Regions from separate parts of the Homo sapiens genome. Here region 2 is linked to region 1. The links come from fine-mapping of genetic effects on gene expression. A gene starts in region 1. The other region holds a variant in brackets. All regions are shown on one strand. Distances are from middle to middle.

What was found.
Region 2: its variant is fine-mapped to the expression of ZBTB7B in whole blood (INTERVAL, PIP 0.98).

What each region holds. Positions count from the first base shown.
Region 1 is chr1:154,999,293-155,010,711 of GRCh38, forward strand. ZBTB7B (zinc finger and BTB domain containing 7B) reads left to right here and starts at 3,510. Exons shown (of 3, transcript NM_001256455.2): 1 at 3,510-3,651. RefSeq lists enhancers at 89-1,041, 559-618, 5,482-6,154, 8,398-9,112, 10,614-11,363 and silencers at 239-318, 799-1,038, 1,629-1,708, 1,789-2,008, 2,409-2,648 and 4 more.
Region 2 is chr1:154,964,878-154,972,877 of GRCh38, forward strand. SHC1 (SHC adaptor protein 1) reads right to left here and starts at 5,870. Exons shown (of 12, transcript NM_001130040.2): 1 at 5,155-5,870; 2 at 4,501-4,571; 3 at 3,894-3,957; 4 at 3,618-3,737; 5 at 3,327-3,380; 6 at 3,103-3,154; 7 at 2,794-2,920; 8 at 1,442-1,640; 9 at 1,285-1,354; 10 at 1,069-1,203; 11 at 666-904. The coding sequence starts at 5,649. RefSeq lists enhancers at 4,647-5,197, 5,198-5,748. The variant C/G (reference allele first, on the strand shown) is at 4,240.

The sequences.
Region 1 (11,419 bases):
ATCGGAAGGAGGCTGAGTGCAGAGGGGTTGTCTTGCCTTCTCTGGGACGTGGAGTTTTGGAAACTGTTCCCCTGAGCTTCCTGAAGCTAAATTTGCCTCCCCCGGCCTTGGGGGGCGCAGAGATCCCGGCGGCGATTAGCGCTGCGCGGCAGCCGGCTCCAACCCAGAGGCCCGGAATAGGCGCGGAGTTATAAATAGTGCCACCCGCAGGTGTTGGGGGGAGTCGGCGGGAGGGGGGTACCCCTGGCGGCCACGGCCCCTTCAGGTGGGTTGGGCGGTCGCGGTGGGAGCGCTGGGGGGCGGGGGGCGTGGGGGGTCTGCGGTCTGAGCGCCCCCAGCGGTTTCCTGGGCGGCGGGTTTTTCGAGGGAAGCGGAGGCAGCGGAGGATGGGGGGGAGCAGCGGAGAAGAGGTGGGCGCCTGGCGCATGCTGACGCTCCGCTTGCAGCTCAGCCCCCCACATTCCGAAACAGGCCCCCAGACCCACTCACGCAGGACCCCGCCCAGGCAAAGCCTCGCCTTTCTTAACACCTGAAGGCCTCATTCCCCCAGGTTCTGCAAGCATCTAACTTCTATGCTTCTACCCTTCGGCGCACGTGGCCCGGCCAGTCCGCGCACCTGGCCGTCATTCCGAGTCGCTGTCCCCAGCCCCAGGTATTCAGTCCTCCCACTCGGGGCTTTCATTCCTCTCTTAGGGTAAACACTTCCTTCTCTGGGTATTTGTCCAACTCGTGCTACTCTCCCCAAATTTAAGGTCTAGCTGGTCACCTAAAAATTTAAGTCTTAACATGCGGATCTGGGACGCTCTCCTATCCCCAGGCGGCCCCTGCAGGCCCCTCACTTGCCCTCCAGCTCCCAGTTCCAGTCTGGGCCTAGTGGCGGGGCGGGGGCGGCCGGCCCCTGGGGCCCAGCAGGGGTTTCATGGGAGGGGGCGGGGTCCCCAGTCAGCGTTTCTCTGCCGCCGCTGTTTCAGTCGTTTGGCGTGGTTAGGGGTTGGGGTAAGAGGGAATTTCAAGTAGGGGTTCCCCGCTCCGATTTCTGAGTAAGGAGGGGAGCTATTTGCACCAGGAGAAAAAGAGAGACAAGGGAGGGTGGGCGTCACTGAGGAACTAACTGCGGGTTCCAGGACCATTGGGAATGAGGTGAGGAGTGGCAATCTAGCCGCAGAAAGATCAGTCATGTTCAGCCAGACGCAGAACGCGACCCTCAAACATGGGGGAAGTTGGGCGAGGCGAGCCTGAGGCACTGGGCACCTTTCGAGTTTCTGTACCCAAAGGCTGGTGCCAGGGAGCCCGCCCTTCTATTGCCTCTGGAAGCCCTGGCTCTGCCCTCCCCGGGCCACGTTCCCACCCCCCCCGCCCCCCGCCCCCTGCCCCCCGCCCCCTTTCCTTGGCTATCCTCCTTCCTCCCCAAAGCAGCCCCCTCTCCATTTCACTTGTGGCACTGCCGCCTAGCCCCTAGCACAGCCCTTCACCAGGCCTGCACGACCCAGACGGCTGGAGTAGGAAGGGGAAAACCCCGGCCTGGACGGCTCCGGGCCCCTCCGGACCAGGATCTGTCCGGCGGGGCTGAGAAGAAAACCCGGAGCAGTGATCAGCCTCGCGACCCAAGGGGGTCAGGGACGATAGGAAAACCCGGAGCGGATTACTCGAGCCAGAGCGCCCCATGCCTGCCGCTACCTCCTCCTTCCTATAGCCCCCCTAATTCTCCAGTGAGATAATGTCTGGGGTGGGGGGCTGTTTGGTTTGGCCTGAGCCCTCAGGGGCGCCTCACACTTTCCGCCCCTGGCTGGGGCGCAGGGCAGCGGCCCCGAGGCTGAGTCACGGCCCGGCGCGGAGAGGGAGAGAGGGAGAAAGAGGGAGGGAGGGACCTGGACTCCGCCCCTCGTGCGCGGGGATCCCGGGTCAGCCCGGGTGAGGGCCAGGGCCCCCCTGGCGCCGCCCATTGTGGTCCAACAGGTTGAGCTGGTGTCCCGAGAAGCCACCTGCTGGAAAGGGAGGGAGGCCCCCTGCGGAGGGGGGTTGGGAGGGGAAAGCGAGTCCGACCCGGTTCGGCCTGGCTTGTCGCAGGGGAGCCAAACCTGGCCCTAGGTAGCCGGATTTGATTCCATTTGACACTAGTGGGAGGGGCCCTTTGGGGTACGCAGCTCCGCAGGCTCAGTCAGAAACATCCTTCACCCGCTACCTTTCTCAGTTGGGGGACTCCTAAGTATTTATCCCGGTCCTCCCCAAAACCTACACATACCACACATCCCAAAACATCCAGGCACCCCTCGCCACCTGGGTCTCTCAGCGAATTCATGTCAAGCTATCCCTCCTCGGTGGAGACTCAGTTTCTCCACTTAGGGAACCCGCGGGATGGAGGTGGGGAGCAAAAGCGTCGGCGCGCCCCCTCCCCCTTCGCAGACTGGGCCCCTCCCCTCCGACAATGCCAAGGCCGCAGCGGGCACTGGCGACAGCACAGAGGCTGCTTGCCTGGGGCGCCCTTCCCTCCCCGCGGGGCACCGTCACGCGTGGGGAGGGACGCAGGGCGCCCGCAGGCTCAACTCCCCGGCTCCCTCCGAGAGGGGGTGGGGCGTAGGGGCCGGAGCCGAAGGCCTGGTGGCTCCCCCTCCCCCTCCCTTCTAGGTCCCTGACCTGATTACAGCCCCTCACGGGACCCCCTCCCTCAAGACCCTAAGTCCCCAATTCACCCCCACCCAGCCTATCCCTAACCTCTCATACCCTTCCCTCCTGAGGTCCTGACCCTACAGAAGCCCCTCTTGAAGGAGAGGGAGCCCCTGTAGGGGGTGCTCGATTCCCTGGCCGCTGCGGACACTGCCCCCTCCCCCCTCCTCTCCAGGTTCCAGGCCAGCCCCTCGGCTCCGCCCCCTCCCTGGACGAACGCAAGGCGAGACCTACTGGAGATGAGCGGGTATTCAGGCCAATGAGCGGACAGGGCGGTGGCGTGCAGGGGGCGGGCAGAGCAGCAGCAAAGGGCTGGATGGGGGCCGGGGGCGGAGTTTGAGTTAAGGTGGACTGGGAGAGATAGGGGCAGGAGAAAGGGGGGGGAGAGAGGGACCGCGGCAGGTGAAGGGAGACAGAGAGAAGGAAAGAAGGAGGGAAAGGAGGAGGGTGGGAAAGGCTAGGAGAGCTAAGTAAGAGTTTGGAGAAGGGGGCAAAAAAGGAGGGAGGGACCCATCTGCGCTCTGCAGGGACTGGCTGGACGAAGGGGTTGAAGTTTATGTCCTTATTGGGCGGAGGGAGGGGGCCTGGGGGGGCGGGTGAAAAACCAGGAAGTGACAGAGGGTGTTTCTAAGTGTTGGGGGGGGGGAGTTTGGGGGGTGGCAGGGGCGGGGGGAGGGAGGGGAGGGATGGGGGGAAAGCAAGCTGGAGGACAGGTGAGACAGCAGGACAGGTGAGGCGGGCCCTGAGGGGGGGGCGGGTGGGAGCCAGGTGAATGTACGGCTCTTGGCGGCCGAGGGGGGGCGGGCGGCAGGAGGAGGCAGAGGGCGGCGGAGGAGGAGCCCCCCAGCAGCGAGCGGCGAGCAACTGACCGCGGCCTTCTGACCAGGACCGGAGCAGGGCCCCAAGCCCCCGGGCCTGGTGGGGGACGCGCTTCTTCCCACACTGTGAGCCTCAGCAGCTCCAGCCAGCGGACCCGACGGCTGAGAGGTGAGTGTACCCCACTTTTGTCTCCTGGCTCGGGGTTCACTAGGCTCGAGACTACTGCAGTGTCCTTCGTCCGTCCTGTAAGTGGGACCCCCAGATACACACGCATGCAGATCACATTCCCACCACTCCCCTTCCCTGTGCTTTCCCAACACCCCGGGTCTCTGGAATTGGTTTTAACTGAGATGAAAGACAGAGAAGGAACTGCGGATGCCCCCCAACCCTAGGCGGAGGGTCCCCAGAAAGTTTATCTGCACTTCTCCTGGGATCAGACAGACAGACGGCTTCGGGATGGAGAGGGGGTGAGGCGACGCTGAGCGTTCCCCCAGTCTCCTTCGTGACTTTAGGGGGAGACCCCAGACCGGACTGAGTTGAGGGAATGGAAACGCTGACGGACTCTAACTAGGACAACGCGCACCCCCCCCCCACCCCGCGCCCCCTGGCGCGGTGGATTGGCCCCAGGCCAGTTGCATGGGGGTTGGGGGGGCGCAGGAGGAGCCGCGGCTTGGGGGAAAGTTACCGGCTGGACTATTCGGTTTCTTGCGCTTCCAGAGCCGCGCTCTCTCCAGCGGTAGTGGGGCTCAGCAACAACCTCTGAACCGACATAGAACGACCGCTCTCTTCCCTGCCCCTCAATCCCACTCCCTTCCTTCAGGCTCCAGTCCCGCCGCTACCTTTTCCACGCCAGCTCATGACCACAGAACCCAAGAGCGAGGGCGGGTGACTAGGAAGAATTCTCCTACCTACTACCCGTCCCCCCACCGGCGCCGGCGCACCTGCCCCAGCCCAGAGTGGGGGTCGCTACTGTGTTGTTGTAGAACCTACAGAGTGCGCCTGGCAGAAGGCTGCCATTCAAAGGGGTGGGGGGCGCTGCTTTCAATTTCCAGCTTTCTCTCCCTCCTCCCACCCCATCCCAAGTAAGAGAGCGACGTGTCCCGGCCAGAGCGAGGTGGGGGCGGGAGTGGGGGGGCGGCGTGGGCAGCGGGTTGTGCCCGGACACGTGCCTGCCCAGGCGCCCCGGCCCTGCTGGTGTTTAGAGAGAGGGCGGGTCCCCTGCCCCCCGCCCCGCACAACCCCCACGTATCAAAGGGCGGCTGAGACATGGTGAGACCTCGGGGCGCCCTGGGGGGCAGGGGGGCGGGGAGCCTGGGTCCGGAGCAGGGGAGGGGCAGAGGCGCCGGTGCTAGCTGACCCACAGGAAACGAGCGCTGCTGACCTAGTTTGGGACACCGGAAGTGGGTGCTGGGGAGAGGGGGAGACCGGCAGGCTGTCCAGGCTTCCGGGCCAGGTGGAGGGTGTTCTTGAATTGACCCCCGCCCGAATGCCTTGGAGACCCCTAGCTGCAGCCGAGAATGGGAATGAGTCAGCGCAGCTATTCCCCCTTCCCCCAACTTATTCCTGGAGGAGGGAGACCGCTTATCAGGGACGGGGGAACCAGATTGGGCTGTGAGGGGTTAAAGCAGGATGGGAACTGTCTGGTCCCTAAGGGAGTATGTGTGAGTGTGGGGATGAGGCCTGGAGGATTATGGGGTTGCCTCCTGCTGCCCCACACACACCAACTGGTTTGGTCACCCCTGTACCCGCCTGGCACTGCTGGGAGAGCTGGCATGGAGTGGACATCAGGTTGGGGAGGAGAGAGTGGGCATAAGGAGTGTTGTGCTGCGCTAGAGAGGGACATATGTGTGACTATGTCTGGATGATAGTTAGTGTTCCTCCTTAGTGGTAACTGGGGAGAAGGGTAGGGGGCTCCCCCTGGAGCAGCTGATGAAACAAGGAGAAATCTCTGTCAGTGCCTCTGTCCCTGGCCCCAGGGACCCCAGCTCCCCCAGCGTGCCTCTGTTACATGGTTGCTGTGGGCACAACACAACCTGCTGGCACCCCCAGACACTGTCCCCTCCCTTGGGTACCACACACCCCCAGCCCTGGCACAGGGGTCAAAAAGGGGTTAATACCACCAGAATGGGGCTCTGGGGAAGAAAGAAGGCAGTGCCCACTAGGCTCAGGTGTCAAGGAGACAGGCTTGCTCTAATGGGACTCTCATCACTACTCAGTTCTGGCTGATGTAGACCCCAGTGTCTGGAAGACAGGTGCTGTCCCCTTCTTCTTCCCCATGGTGCCCCCTGGCACCCAGGGCCCCCAGCTCCTCCTTGGCCTAGTGCCTGCCCAGGGAGGGTGCGGCGGGCAGCGGGGGCTGGGCTAACAATGCACCATCAGGCCCTTTGTGTGCCTGCACTTGGCACCCTGGGGAAGGGTGGGGGAGGGGGCCCAGCAGGCATGGGGGGCGGAGCGCTCTGGGGTGGGGACAGTGAAGGCTGGGGGAGAGAAGCAAATGAAAGCAGGTGGGGAGGAAAGGGAAGTAGGTCAGATAGGGTGCCAGCCCCCCATTCCAAGCCAAGGCTGAGAGAACCAGCCCCTGATCCTATGGCTGCCTGGATGGCATCAGACTGAGGGACAGCCTAGGACTGGGCATTTGGGGTCAGAAGTCACTGCCCAGGGGACTGCTCAGATGGAGAAGGTTTGGCCTGGTACTGCCCCCTTCTTAATGGCTGAGAGACCCAATTCTTCTGGCCCAAGACCAAGGCCCCAAGATGAGTAGTGAATGGGCTCCAGGCAGGGCACTGCCCTCTGACAGAAGCCTCTGGGCCTGCTGCGGGGCTTCCTGCCTCTGCCCCGCTTGGCTCCCTGACCTTCCTGAGAGTTAAGACTGCCCTGACACCAGGCCTTAGGGCCTATGCCTGTTTTGGCCTAGGGCGGGAGAGAACAGTGGGGGAGGAAGGTGGGGACAGGCAGATGGATAGGACCCTGGCATGGGGTGTGCCCGCCCTGGCCTCTTCCCCCTCCTTGTGCTGAGTAAACTCGTGAGTAAACTTGACGTTTTGCCCGGACAGTTTGAAGTTGCCTCGCTGCCCCCTCCCCCCCACTCTTGCCAACACAGAAGCGGCCAGGCGCCAAGGCGGGCCCGGGGGACTGGGAGGAAGGGGATAGAGCTGCTGTCATCCACCATCAAGTGTTTGGTGGGGTGGGGACAAGAAAGACCCCCACACCCAGCCAGGCCTAGGTCTTGGCAAGAGTCTTGGCTGGGGCCTGCCAGCATCTGTCCCAGAGCCCTGGGGAGCCCAGGAAAAGTGGCTTCAAAGCAGGTCCTCTGCCCACTTCTGACTTCCACCTCTACTAGGGAAAGGCACCCAGCTACCACCTGGCCCCCTGAGTTGCCATCTTTAATATTCACTGGCACAGGGACAAAGCTACCTTTAACAAATTCCCCAGGGAGACCAGAGAGGGCTGCCCTCTTCATCCTGTCCCATAGTTTGGGATGGACATCTTAGCCCTCTCTTCCCTGAGGCCTCCAGATGCCATGGTTCTGCTATGGAGGATAGCATTCTCATTTGCCAGCACTTGCCCTGACCACACCTGGGCCTAACCCCACATATACCTCTACCATATTCACCATCAGGCCTAGCCCTGATCTCCCCAAACCCCTTCCTTTGCCTGCTATCTTCCCCAGAACCAGGTCAGCCTTCAGAGCTTCCCAGTCAGCAAATACCTGTGCCAGATTCAGGGGTCGAAGGTGCCCCAGGCAAAAGAGGGCTGATGGCAGGCAAATGAAACAGTGATCCCCCATAAATATGTCAATTTGCTATCTTTTGACATCACTGATCCTCTTCTTCCTCCCAGGCCAACAGAATGACATGGGGAAATGCCATCCCAGTCCCTGACAGGCCTCAGAGTGGGGCTCCCCCAGGCCCTTACTTTCGACCTCATGTCTCTGGCTTCAGTTTCCTTCCTGTTTCCACCGTCCCCCCAACTCCTCCCCACCCATATGCCCCTTTCAACAGACATCCTCTCCTCCTTCCTTCCTCCTTTCCTCCCCCTTTGCCTGGGAGCAGGGGTCCTCTTTCCTCCACCATGGACATCCTAGCCTTTTACCTCTTCTTAAACCTAGCCCCCTTGGAGATTCATGACCAAGTCATCTGCCCTTCTCACCCATCAGCAAGGCTCTGGGGAAGAGGAGAACCCAGAGCTTCTCAAGGGGGACTACAACTCCCAAGGTACATACAAAGCAATTGTGGTGCACACTGGGAGTTGTAGTCCTTGAGCTCTCAATTTGGCTGAGTCTGGAAGTGTTTCTGGATGAAGGTGAAAGTCAGAACTGGGATGGGTTGGAATGTGGGTACCCTCTGCATCCCCCCACTTTATTCTTGCTATCGCATTGCCATGGGATGCTGTGTACCTATGATTGACATCCATCTCCCTTGCTGAGACATGCTACCTGTCCTCACCTTAGGGCCCCACCCAAAAGATGCCCACACCCTGCCCTGCTGCCCCTGGCAGGGGTGAAACAGAGGGGCCCCATGAACTCCCTCCCTGCCCCCTGCCCTCTAGGCTGGTTCCCTCCCTTTATGGGGATCAAAGGGCAGAGAGCAGCCCCACCCCACTCCCTTGCAGGCTGCAGGCACTAGGGCTCTCAGGAATTGCAGGGACTTTGGTGCCCAAGCAAATGCTTGGGCAGGGGGAATGCCGGGAGGTTGGCACCTGGTGGTAGGGAGAGACACTGGCCCCCACCCTGGGGTGTGGAGCCTTCATTAACTACTCACAGGGCTGTCCATTGCCTCCTAGGCTCTCTCTGTGTAGGCCCTGACCAGTGTGCTACCTCTTGAGGAGGTGGTTTGAGAACAGGGTCTTAGGCCTTATCTGTAAGGCCTAGGGGCCTGGGCCCGTCTGGCTGGCACCAAGGCACAGGGTGACCCTCCCCCACCTCAGGCCCACAGTTGGCATGGGGCGCTGGGAGCAGGGGGGTAGGAGGGAGAGGAGGGCAGGACTGCCAGCATCCTGGTGGGTAGGTGCCAACCGGGCCGGGAGCTGGTGAGGGGCAGCAGGCCAGCGGCATTGAGCCAGCAGCTGTTGGGGGAAAGGGGAGGGGATATTTTAGGGGGCATTTCTATGGTACCCCCAAGCCTAGCAGGATTTGGGATGGCCTAGTGTCTGGGGGTCACTAGGGCACCCCTCATTCCAGGAATAAGGGACCCCAGGAGTTGTTTAAGTGAAATTTGGTGGCCCATCCATGTCTGGGCTCAGAGCTCTCCTGAGTTGCCCCTCAGGCCCAGGCGGGTCCCACCCAACCGGCCAGGGTGGCAGCAGCTTGCGCAAGGGGTGGGGCTAGGCGCTTCCCAGCAGATGCCCCCTCCCAGCTCCTTCCTCTTTCGGTGCCCACAGCTCCCCCAATCTGTCTATCCCCCTCAGGCCAGCTCTGTTCCCCCTGATCCCCCTGGCTATTGGGGGCTGGCATGAGTGCTGCCCCCTGGCCTGGTTGGCAGGGGTTGGCACCCGGGCAAGGAACTGTGGTATGTGAGTGGGTTTGGGGTGAGGCTATGGGGAGGGCGGGGTGCCGCCTTGCCCAGCCCCTGAGGGCCCCAGCCCAGTACAGGGTAGGGAGAATTCGGCCAGCTCCCAGGGGGACTGAGGAGCTTGCTGGGGTCTAGAGGGCTTCCTTGTGGTCCCCATCCCACATACTCTGAGGGGCTGGGACCCAGGCACCTGTCACCCCTGGCACTGACTGTCCAGGGTTCCCCTCCTCCCTCTTCTAGCCACAGCTGCCTCCGTCCCCTCCCCTCCCTTCTTCCTTCTCCTGGTCCCACCTCCAGTAGCCTCTCCCATTGCTCCTCCTCATCTCTGTCCTCCTGGACTGTCCCAGCTCCTACCTTTCCTACCCCTCACCTTTTTCCTCTTTTAGGACTGAGTAAGGACAGGAGTGGGTGGGTTCTGCTGGGGCTTCAGGCACCACAGGCAGAGACTCTGGGCCCTCTCCCACGCCGCCAGCCCTCCGGTAACCCCTCCCTCCAAGCTGGGGGGAGGGGGGACAGCACCCAGAGGGTTAAGGCTGTAGGGGGGAGGGGCTGGGCCAGGTCGTGGGCGGCCCCTTTGAAGGAGGGAGCTGGAGCGGGGAACAGCCACCCTACCTCCCCCCAAGCCTGGCCCTCCCCCACCTGTCCCAACCTGCTGCCCCCAGGGGCCAGGAGGAGTTGCCGCCAGGCCCCTCAGCGTTCAGGTGAGTAGGCCCTGCTCTGGCTTGGGAGATCAGGCCCCAGGGGGGCTTGGAGGCCTAGAATTAGCCAAGGGTCAGAGGACTGAAAAACAGGTCAGGAAGAGGGTGCCCAGACTTCACAAGAGAGTTTAGGGAACTGAGGGCTTGAGAAGCGGGAATGTGGGGAGGCCTCAGTGTTTAAGGGGACCCGAGCAGATCAGGAGAGGCAGAAGAGGGGCCTATAGGGACTGAGTGATTGCTGGGCCAGGCCAGGAGGCTGGACAGGCTGGCAGAGAGCCGGGCTCCGGAGATCGGGCTGGGGTGTCCTCTGGGGCTGGGGGGCTCAGGTTTCTGCTGGCGGCTTGGCGGGTGTGGGGTTACCAGCCAGCTCGGTTACCCAGCCGGAGACACTAGGCTGGGGGGGAGGGGGTGGGCACAGGGCAGACCCTGGCACCTTGTGCGGTCTCCTCAGGCCCTAAGGGGAGCTGGCACTGTCCAGGCAGACCCTGCTGAGAATCCTGATGGCCAGAGTCTGTCCAAGTGGACAATTGCCTGGTCCAGGGTGGGCACCCTCCGGGGAAAGTCCAGCAGCTCCAGGGCTGGAAACTCTGACGGGCAGAGAGGCACAGGTTGTCCCCCCACCCCCACCCCACATCCGCTCTCGCTGCAAACCCCCCTCCACCACTCATTCTCCCCAACTGGCTCCCAAATTGTGGTCCCCTGCTTCATCCAAAAGTGGGGTGTGGGTGCCCTAAACTCAACCATCTTTTGGCAAGACCAGGCATTGGAAGGCAGGCCTGGTCCCTGATTTAATTCCTCTGCGGCTCTCCACCCCTCATATGCCTGGGAAGAAGGGAATGGATGGTTGGAGCAGGGGGCCAATGGAGAAAGTGGAGAAGTTTGAGCAAGAGAGAACCAAGGGGAAGAGAAAGGAGAGGCAGGGACAGTTCCTGGGAGGAGGCCTAGGGACACTGATGGGGTGGAGAGGATGCGGAGTTCAGGGAGGGCTGAAGGAAGGAAAGCAAAGGGTGGACTTGTGGAGGGAAGACAAGGGTCGGAGGAGGCAATGAGGGGACAGAACCAGGAGGCCAAGAGAGGGGCAAGAGTGAGGGCTGGATGATGGCAGGGAATACCCAAAGGTGGCGGCGCTAAGGCTGAGAGAGTTGCCCCCATTCCTTCCTCCGCCATCTTTTATCTTCCTCATATTTCCCTTGATGGGGACTAAGGGGCTATGGGCAAGGGCTGGTGTCATGGAAAGAAAATGTAGGGAAGCATTAAGGTCTCCCTCATTTCAGGAGCCCCAGAACCAGGACTGGGGGATTTGGAGCTGGGCAGAGACTTAACCCCCACAGCACCGGGAAGCAGCCAACTCCCCTCGCCTCCTTCCCCCTTCGTGGCTTGCGGTCTCTCTTCCCCGCCTCGGCCCCCAGGAAGTGTGAGTGCTGGGGGTGGTGAGGTTAGGAGGGGGAAGCGTCATATGGGGGATGGGGAAGGCATGCACAAGCTTGGAGGGGCTGGGGTGGGGAGAGAAGGGCTCCATAAATGTCAGAGCATCCCTGGGCAGAGAACCTCTTCTTTGAAGCCCTTCTAGTCCTCATGTGAGAAGAGGCTCAGCCCCTTTACCTTCCCTCCCCAACTGGGCAATCCAGATGGCTGCAGCTCCTGGGCCCCAGAGGCCCTGGGAAGCGGTGGGGGAAGCTGGAGAACAAGGATTCCTGGGTCCCTTAGGACTTTGGACTGGCTGTCCAA
Region 2 (8,000 bases), 36 kb before region 1:
AACTTGCAGTGTCTAGCCTCTAACCATCTGACATTGGGCATCACAACCTCTTCAGGGTGGTTTCCTTATTTGTCAAAAGAGGGGCACAGATGAGATGACTGCCTTCTAGCTCTGATAAGCTTAAGGCTTGGGGATTTGAGGACGGGCCAGGACTGTATTTGTTTTGTTTTGTTTTTTCAGACAGAGTCTCACTCTGTCACCCAGGCTGGAGTGCAGTGGTGTGATCTCAGCTCATTGCAACCTCTGCATCCCAGATTCAAGCAATTCTCCTGCCTCAGCCTCCTGAGTAGCTGGGACTACAGGTGCCTGCCACCACACCCGGCTAATTTTTGTATTTTTAGTAGAGACAGGGTTTCACCATATTGGTCAGGCTGGTCTCGAACTCCTGACCTCAGGTGATTCACCTGCCTCAGCCTCCCAAAGCGCTGGGATTACAGGTGTGAGCCACCACGCCTGGCCCTGTGCCAGGACTATAAAGAACATAGTTCAGGCTAAGGGATGAGCCTCTGGAGGAAGATGCCAGACACTTTAAAGAGCAAGAGAGGCCCATAGACAGCTGCCCAGCGGGAATGTCTACAAAGCAATGAGGGAAGGAAGAGGGATACACTGTAGGGTACTGTACCTTCCTTTTTGCCACCCCTCACCCACACCTCTGCCACACTCACCACACCCTCAGGGTCCACCAGTAGCAAATGCTTAGGCTGCCCACTCTGCAAGCCAGTGAGCACATACTGGCCAGGTGTGGTCGTGCTCTCCCGTACCAGGAAGTCCCCATTGAGCTGCAGCAGTGCCTCAGCCTCCCGCCGGCTCAGCTTCCCATGGAACCAGGGCTCCCCTCGGAGCTGCTCAGCCATGGACACCGACTGGGGAGGTGGAGGCACGCGAAGAGCATCTTCGAAGGGCTCTGGAAGTATAGAGGGAGGGTGAGGGGAAGTAGCAGGCACAACACACACCCAAGACCCAGACTTCAGGGAAGGGAAGTCAGGAAGGAAAGAGCAGATAGGCAGGAGAAGGGCCAGAACCAAGTAGAAAGGTGGGGATGCAGAGAGGAGAGAGACGAGCACTCACTCATGTCAAACAGGTCCCGGGGTGCACTGCCATTGATAGCAGGATTGGGGGGCCCAGCACCACCCACTGCTTGCCGGGCCTTGTCTAGGTTCTGGACGTTGACATAGGAGGGATCATCAAAAAGCTCTCTGCCTGCTGAGGAAAGGGAGGCTCTACAGTGATCCCAGCCCTGCCTCCAACACTCCCCAGCTCTGCCTATCTCGGCTCCCTTCATACCTGGACAGGGTGGTGGAGGTGGCATCTGTTTGCGGACTTCTGGATCTCCCCCAACAGGCTGTCCTACAGGCTGCAGGGATAAAAATAAGGTGAGACCAGAAGCCCTAACCAACCACTCCCACCCTAGCCCCAGCCCGCCTCCATCCAAGCAACTTACCAATGTAGCTCCCAAGTGGCTGGGGGTCTGGGCATTGGGTGCAGTGGGTCGAGCAGCCCCTGGAGCGGCTCCTTCCCGAAGCCTCATGTCTACCACCCCCCCCAAGGGGGGTTCCTTCCCCGGGAAGTCATTATAGTACTGATGGTCAGGTGGCTCTTCCTCCTCCTCATCCCATGCTGAGCCATCAAAGCCAGCCATCCTGAGGGACAGGACAGTGAAGCTGTGGCTGTAAATGTGTGGTGGGCAGGAGGAGGGAAGGACAGAATAGAACAGCAGCCATCTATTGGGTATTTACTATGGATTAAGCCTGAGGCTGAGTGTTTTATATACATAATCATTTCATTCTCCTGGCAACCCCGTAAGGTAGGTATTGTTTCCTTCCCCACTTTTACAGATGAGGAAAATGAGGGTCAGAGGTGAAAAGATCTGCCCAAGGTCTCACAACTAAAAGGCGGCCGAGCTCAGATTTAAATTCAGGTTTGACTTTAAAGCTCATCCCCTTGGCCAGGTGCAATGGCTCACGCCTATAATCCCAACACTTTCAGAGGCCAAGGAGGGAGGGTTGTTTGAGCCTAGGAGTTCAAGACCAGCCAGGACAACATAGCGAGACCTTATCTCTACCAGAATAAAAATACTACTACTCAGCCAGGTGTGGTGGCATGCACCTGTAGCCCCAGCTACTCAGGAGGCTAAGGTGGGAGGATCACTCAAGCCCAGGATATGGAGGCTACAGTGAGCTGTGATTGTACCACTGAACTCCAGCCTGGGCTACAGAGCAAGACTGTCTCAAATAAGTAATGCTCTTGCTCTTGATCTCTGTGCTATCTCCCAACAAGGAAGGGAAGCACCATGTAGGGGGGTGGGGGGCCGGGGGAGGCACTCCAGCTCCAGAATATTTTAACCTCTCCTAAATATTCAATCCCTACTGGCTCCACTGCTTATCCCTCAAGGCCTGAGGTGGGAAAGGTTGTAATCTCAGGGAAAAGAGATATCCTCCCAAACCCAAATTCTTGATGGCTTCTAGAGGCAGGAAAACACATAATGCCAAGCAGAGAAATGAGCAAGAAAGAGGGATGGGAGTAGAAAATCCCACCTAGCCAGAGAGAGATGTAACTTGGAGGCCCCGGACTACAACTCCACCATGAGCAAACAAGAAAAGCTGGTCCTGCGGCAAGCAGGGCCTCAAAAGTCTTTCCTCCTGGGCCACAGGAAACAGAAGAATAGCAGGAAGTGGGAAGCAGAGGCACACAGGTTATTCCCTCCCTGAACCTCTCAACTCAAGTGTAGGAAGAGCAGCCCTCCTTTCCTAATCCTAATCCAAGAGCTGCTCCACACTCTCCCCACCTGCTCACCTGTCATGAGGGGTGACCAGTTTGGGTGGGTTCCTGAGGTATTGTTTGAAGCGCAACTCGAAGGCCTGGCCAATGGTGCTGATGACATCCTGGGCAAGCCCTTCGGGACACTCCAGAATGTGGCAGGCTGAGGGCACAGCAGAGGCTGTCAGTGAGCTGAGCCCACTGGGAGGAGGCACAGACAGGGGCCCTCATCTTCCTCTGCAGGAACCCCCACTGAGATCTACTTAGAGTGGGTACAGATGACCAAAGGTCCTACTCACCTCCTCAAACAGCCAGACCCACCCAGTGCTCCCCACCATGCCTCACCTCTCTGATTCACAGGGTCTTTGGCAACATAGGCGACATACTCGGCTGTGTCCTGGGGAGGAAGGTCAAAAAATTTTACAGTTCTACTTTACTCCTGACCCCTAAAACCCAGTCCTTTTCAGATATCCCCACAATCCTAGCACCCCCACTTCTCTAATCAATGTCTTCCCAATCCCTAGCCCCTTGCTCTTCTCCCACCGCCTTTGCTCTGTTCCCCAACTCACCGGATCCCCGCCGGATGCAAATGAGATAGATTGCATGTGGTGGTTGGCGATGATCTGAGAATTAGGGCAGGGGATGAAGAAGGAAGGGAATGCCATGTGTCAGGCAGCCTCAGGGCCCAGAACCCTGGTGCCCCAGTCTCATTCTCTGGGTTCCTTATCCCATATCCTCATTTCCTCCTTCCCTACTGGTCTCCTGCTCTCAAGCCCTCTTCCTAGATTTTGGCCTCCTAACTAGATCTCCCCTTAGCACCCCCATCAGTGTTTCTGGTCCGTCTGCCCACCTTCACCAACCTGTTTGCAGTCTGCGGCCATGAGGTTGAGGCTGCTGGTGGAGACGGTGAGAGTGATTGGCATTCCAGCAAATTTCAGGTTACTCCTCCCCAGGATAGAGCTGAGCGGGCGGCTACAGGGCTAAGGTAGGGCCCAGGGTCTCAGAAGGTGAGGGTTCCCAGCACAGGCAAACCACACTTTTGCCTCCTGGCCCTCTCCCCACATGCCCCACACTTGCCTCCCCACTGCCCCTCCACATTTCCCAGCAGCATCCCTATCCCCAAGGACCCCAAGTACCTTTCTCCTCCTTGTCGCCCCCTTAGCACCCGGCACAGCCTCACACACCAGACTGATGGCCTCCCTGGGGAAAGAGGGGTACTCAGACCCAGCGCCTGCCTGCCTGCCTCCCACTCAACTGGGGCTGCCACAGGGCTGGGGGAGGGGAAAGCCAGGCCAGACTCCCAGGGCACTCCAGGCTCTTTGTCATGGTGGATTGAATTAAGGGCCTTTAATATTTGATGACACTGAGAGGCCACTTCCTGGCTGATTGGGTTAGGGCCTCAATGGGTATAGCCCCACCCCCTTCCAGCTACCAAATGTCCCATTCCCTTCCCAAAGGCAGCAGCAACCTTCCATCTACCCC[C/G]CTTTTCTACTCCAGCTCCACCTGCCAGCTGCTTCTGCCACCTTCCCCACAACTCCCAAGGCTGGATAGGTAAGGAGGATCCGGGCCAAAGGGGCCTCCTTTCAGTAAGAGGCGGAATCACTACCTCAGCTTTCTCTCAATCCCCTTTACTACGCAAAGATCAGCCCCCAGCAGCAGCACCCAAGTGACCCACTCCCCTCCTCTGTTTCCCATGGCCTCACTAATCCCAGGACTCCCACAATCCACTCCCTCCCCACTAACCTGGTGACCTGAGTCCGGGTGTTGAAGTCCAGGGCACGCATTGACTGGAGGACCTCCACACAACCCATGTACTAAGGGGAGGGAGAAGAGGACAGCAGGTCAGCGGCTCCCCCACCCCAGCCCCTTCACAAAGGGCCCTAGGACTTTACCCATATGGTCCCTAAGGGAAGTAAAGAGGAAGAAGTTCTGCCCACTTCCCGTGGCTACATCCCACAACCAAGGTGAAAGACAACAGGGAATGAGGAGAAAAAGAAAAGGCAGGCTAGAAGGACCTCACACACTGGGGAGAGAGTTTGGAGGGGACCGACAGGCATTGGCTGGGATGGAGTGACAACTCCAGAAAGCGGGAGGAGAATGGAGGAAAGATCAAGAAGTCATTCATTCCAACACTTATTAAGAGCTTCTGCCATGCTGGGCATTGTGCTAAGCATGCCAGGGTGGGGGTGGGGGAGTGAAAAGAAGGAAGGGGGCCCAGGCAAAGCTGGAAGGGAAGGGGCTACAGAATCGGGGAAGGGATGAGAAAGGTTTAGGAAATAGGACACTGAAACGGGGTTGTTGGGGAACAGCAGGAAAAAAGAGATTCCGGCCAAGCTGGAGTGAGCATTAGAACTGGAGGGGGTCTGCGGGGGAATGGAGAGGAGGATGTTCACTCACCCGAACCAAGTAGGAAACCCCGGGTCCCATGACTTTGTCGTTGGGATGCAGCCAGCCCCGCGTGGGCTTATTGACAAAGCTCCCGTGGCGGGTCCACTCCTCGCCCCCAAGCTGGCCCCCTTCCACCCGAGTCCTGCGCCCGCCGCCTCCACTCAGCTTGTTCATGTCCTGGAGGAGGGGTAGGGGGCCTGAGTCTGGCATGGCTGCCCCTACGATCCCCTCCCCATCATCAGCTGCCCTTCCTGGCTCCCCCTTAGACCCTGGGCGCCCCCCAGCCGGGTTGGCCAGCCTCAGGTTGCTCATCCGGGGGAAGAAGGAGCACAGGGTAGTGGGACTATCGTCCCCAGGCAGAGGAGGCAGGATGGGCCCCAGGGATGAAGCTGATGGGGAAGGCAGCTCCTCCGGGGGGGTGGACCCAGAAGCCCCTTCCTCCAGCGATGACAGAGACTCATTCCGGAGTGGATTGTACTTGGGCTTGGGGGGCAGGAGATCCATAGTTGAGGTGAAAGAGGGGCTGCTGCCCAGCCTGGCCCCCCTGCCAGTTTGGGCAAGGGGGCCAGGCAGGGGGTATCCCCAGGCCCTTAGCCTGGTTGGACCTCTGTGGCCCAGGAGTCACAGAAGTCCTGGGGAGGGAGAGGGACAAGTGGCTTCCGCTCCCCAGCTCAGACCCAGACAGTTTCAGGCCCCATCCCCGCCCAACGTGGAGCCTCTTCTCTGGCTGAGAAGAGAACAGGCTGGACCCAGCGCTTCTGGCTCCTCCCCAGGGGCGGGGAGCTAAGGGGAGAGACCAATCGTGAGGACAGTGCTGACTCACAGGCTCAGAGGGGCTGAGCCCCCACCCCGCCCCAACCTCGAACTGGAGCAGGGGGTAGGGCTATCCAAGCCCCTCTCCCCTGCCCTATACAAACAACTAGTAATCTGGGGAGAAGTAAAGTGGGGGTGGGAGGGAAGGATGGAAGAGTGGGACGGAAAGGAAGGAGATAGGAGGTCTGGGTCACTCAAAACCGGACACACGCAGGCCAAAGGGGGCAGGAAGCCAGGCAGGAGTACAGGGGAATGAGGGAGGAAACAGAGGCAGCTGGGGGTGGAAAAGGGAGGAGATCTCAGAGCTCAGCATTTCCCTTCCTGTCCTGGTTGGACACTCGAATTCCCCCACCCTCTCTATGCCCGAAAGCTGGCTGGCCCCAGCCCAGGCCACCCCCAACCGCTACCCCATACAGTAAGCCTGGGCCATTAGCATCCTCTGCTACAGCAGCTGTGGACTGGAGCTAGCGAAGTGGGGATGGGAAGTAAGTGGTCCCAATGGATGCAGAGCAGGGCCAAGAGGAAGAGCAAAGCTGGTGAAAAAAGGGGAATAAAGTTCAACCTGGATGATACATCAGGAAGCTACCAGGCAAGAAGGGAACAAGAGGACATGCTGGTCACGGCTTGTTCTCTACGTATGCCATCTACCACACCAAGACCGATGGCTCATAGCCAAGCACTGTCCTGTCTCCCCTTTCCACAGGGCTTGTTAACACAGCACACTGTCAAGGGTGAGAATGAGGCAATCAGGTCCCCACTCCCACTCCAAACCACCCCAATTCACATCCCTCCTCTTACAGGGCCCTAAGCCCCACCAAAGAGCACAGCATCCTTCACACCAGGGAAGGAGCCTGGCTGGAGGAGGTGGAAGAAACAGTTCTCCAAGAGAAGTAGAAACTACAGGCCAGGAAGGGACAGAGAGATCAGAAGACACATCTGCGTCAATAAGGACAGGAGAAAAATAAGTACAGGAGAAAGGGGTGTCAGGAGAAGATGGGTTGAAGCTGGACACAGGGAACAGTCCCAAACCCATTCCTGCCACCCACGGCTTCCTGCCACTGCTCTTCCGGAGAATGCCACAGGCAAAGCTGGAAAGTGACCAAAAAAAAAAAAACAAAGATACGTATTCCTACCGGGCGCGGTGGCTCACACCTGTGATACCAGCACTTTGGGAGGCTGAGGCGGGTGGATCACCTGAAGTCAGGAGTTCGAGACCAGCCTGGTCAACATGGTGAAACCCTGTCTCTACTAAAAATACAAAAATTAGCTGGGCGTGGTGGCGGGCACCTGTAATCCCAGCTCAGGAGGCTGAGGCAGGAGAATCGCTCGAACCCAGGAGGCGGAGGTTGCAGTGAGCCGAGATCGAGCCATTGCACTCCAGCCTAGGTGACAAGAGCAAAACTCCGTCTCAAAAAAAAAAAAATACGTATTCCCCCCAGCTCACCTTGGAATTACCCTTAGATTTACTTCAGAGAATTAAAATATAGATAGATAATTATCCTGATTAACAACATTAACACTTGAAGTGTGTTAGATGCTGTGCTTAACTCTTACATCTCCCCTTAGTGCTCATTCCAGAAGAGCTTTGTCACTCTGCCAGCCAATCCTGAGAAGGAATTTTATCACTTCATTTCCAGCCAGCTCTCGGGCATAGAGAGAATGAGGAAAGGATTCCACCATAGCCTCACACCCCCAAAACACACAAACACACACTAGGATGTCCCTCATCTGTAGAGATGATGTTCTGTGGGAGCCTACAGTATCCAGAGCCAGGGAAGGACCAACGGGTGTGGGCGTTCGGAAGAAAAGAAAGACGTATGACTCTTGAAATTTACATAGGGAGAAAGGAGATTGCCTACTGGAAGTCCAGGTGATTGGGTGTAGGGGAAAAGCTGTGTGTGGCTTCGCAGCCCAACTGGGAGGAGGGGACAGGGGCGGGAAGTGGCAGGAAATGGCGAAAGCCTCAGGAATGTTTCCAGCAGGGAAGGCTGGGCAAACGGGGCCAGGAGGAATGCCCAGACAAGAACTCTGGTTAGGGGGAG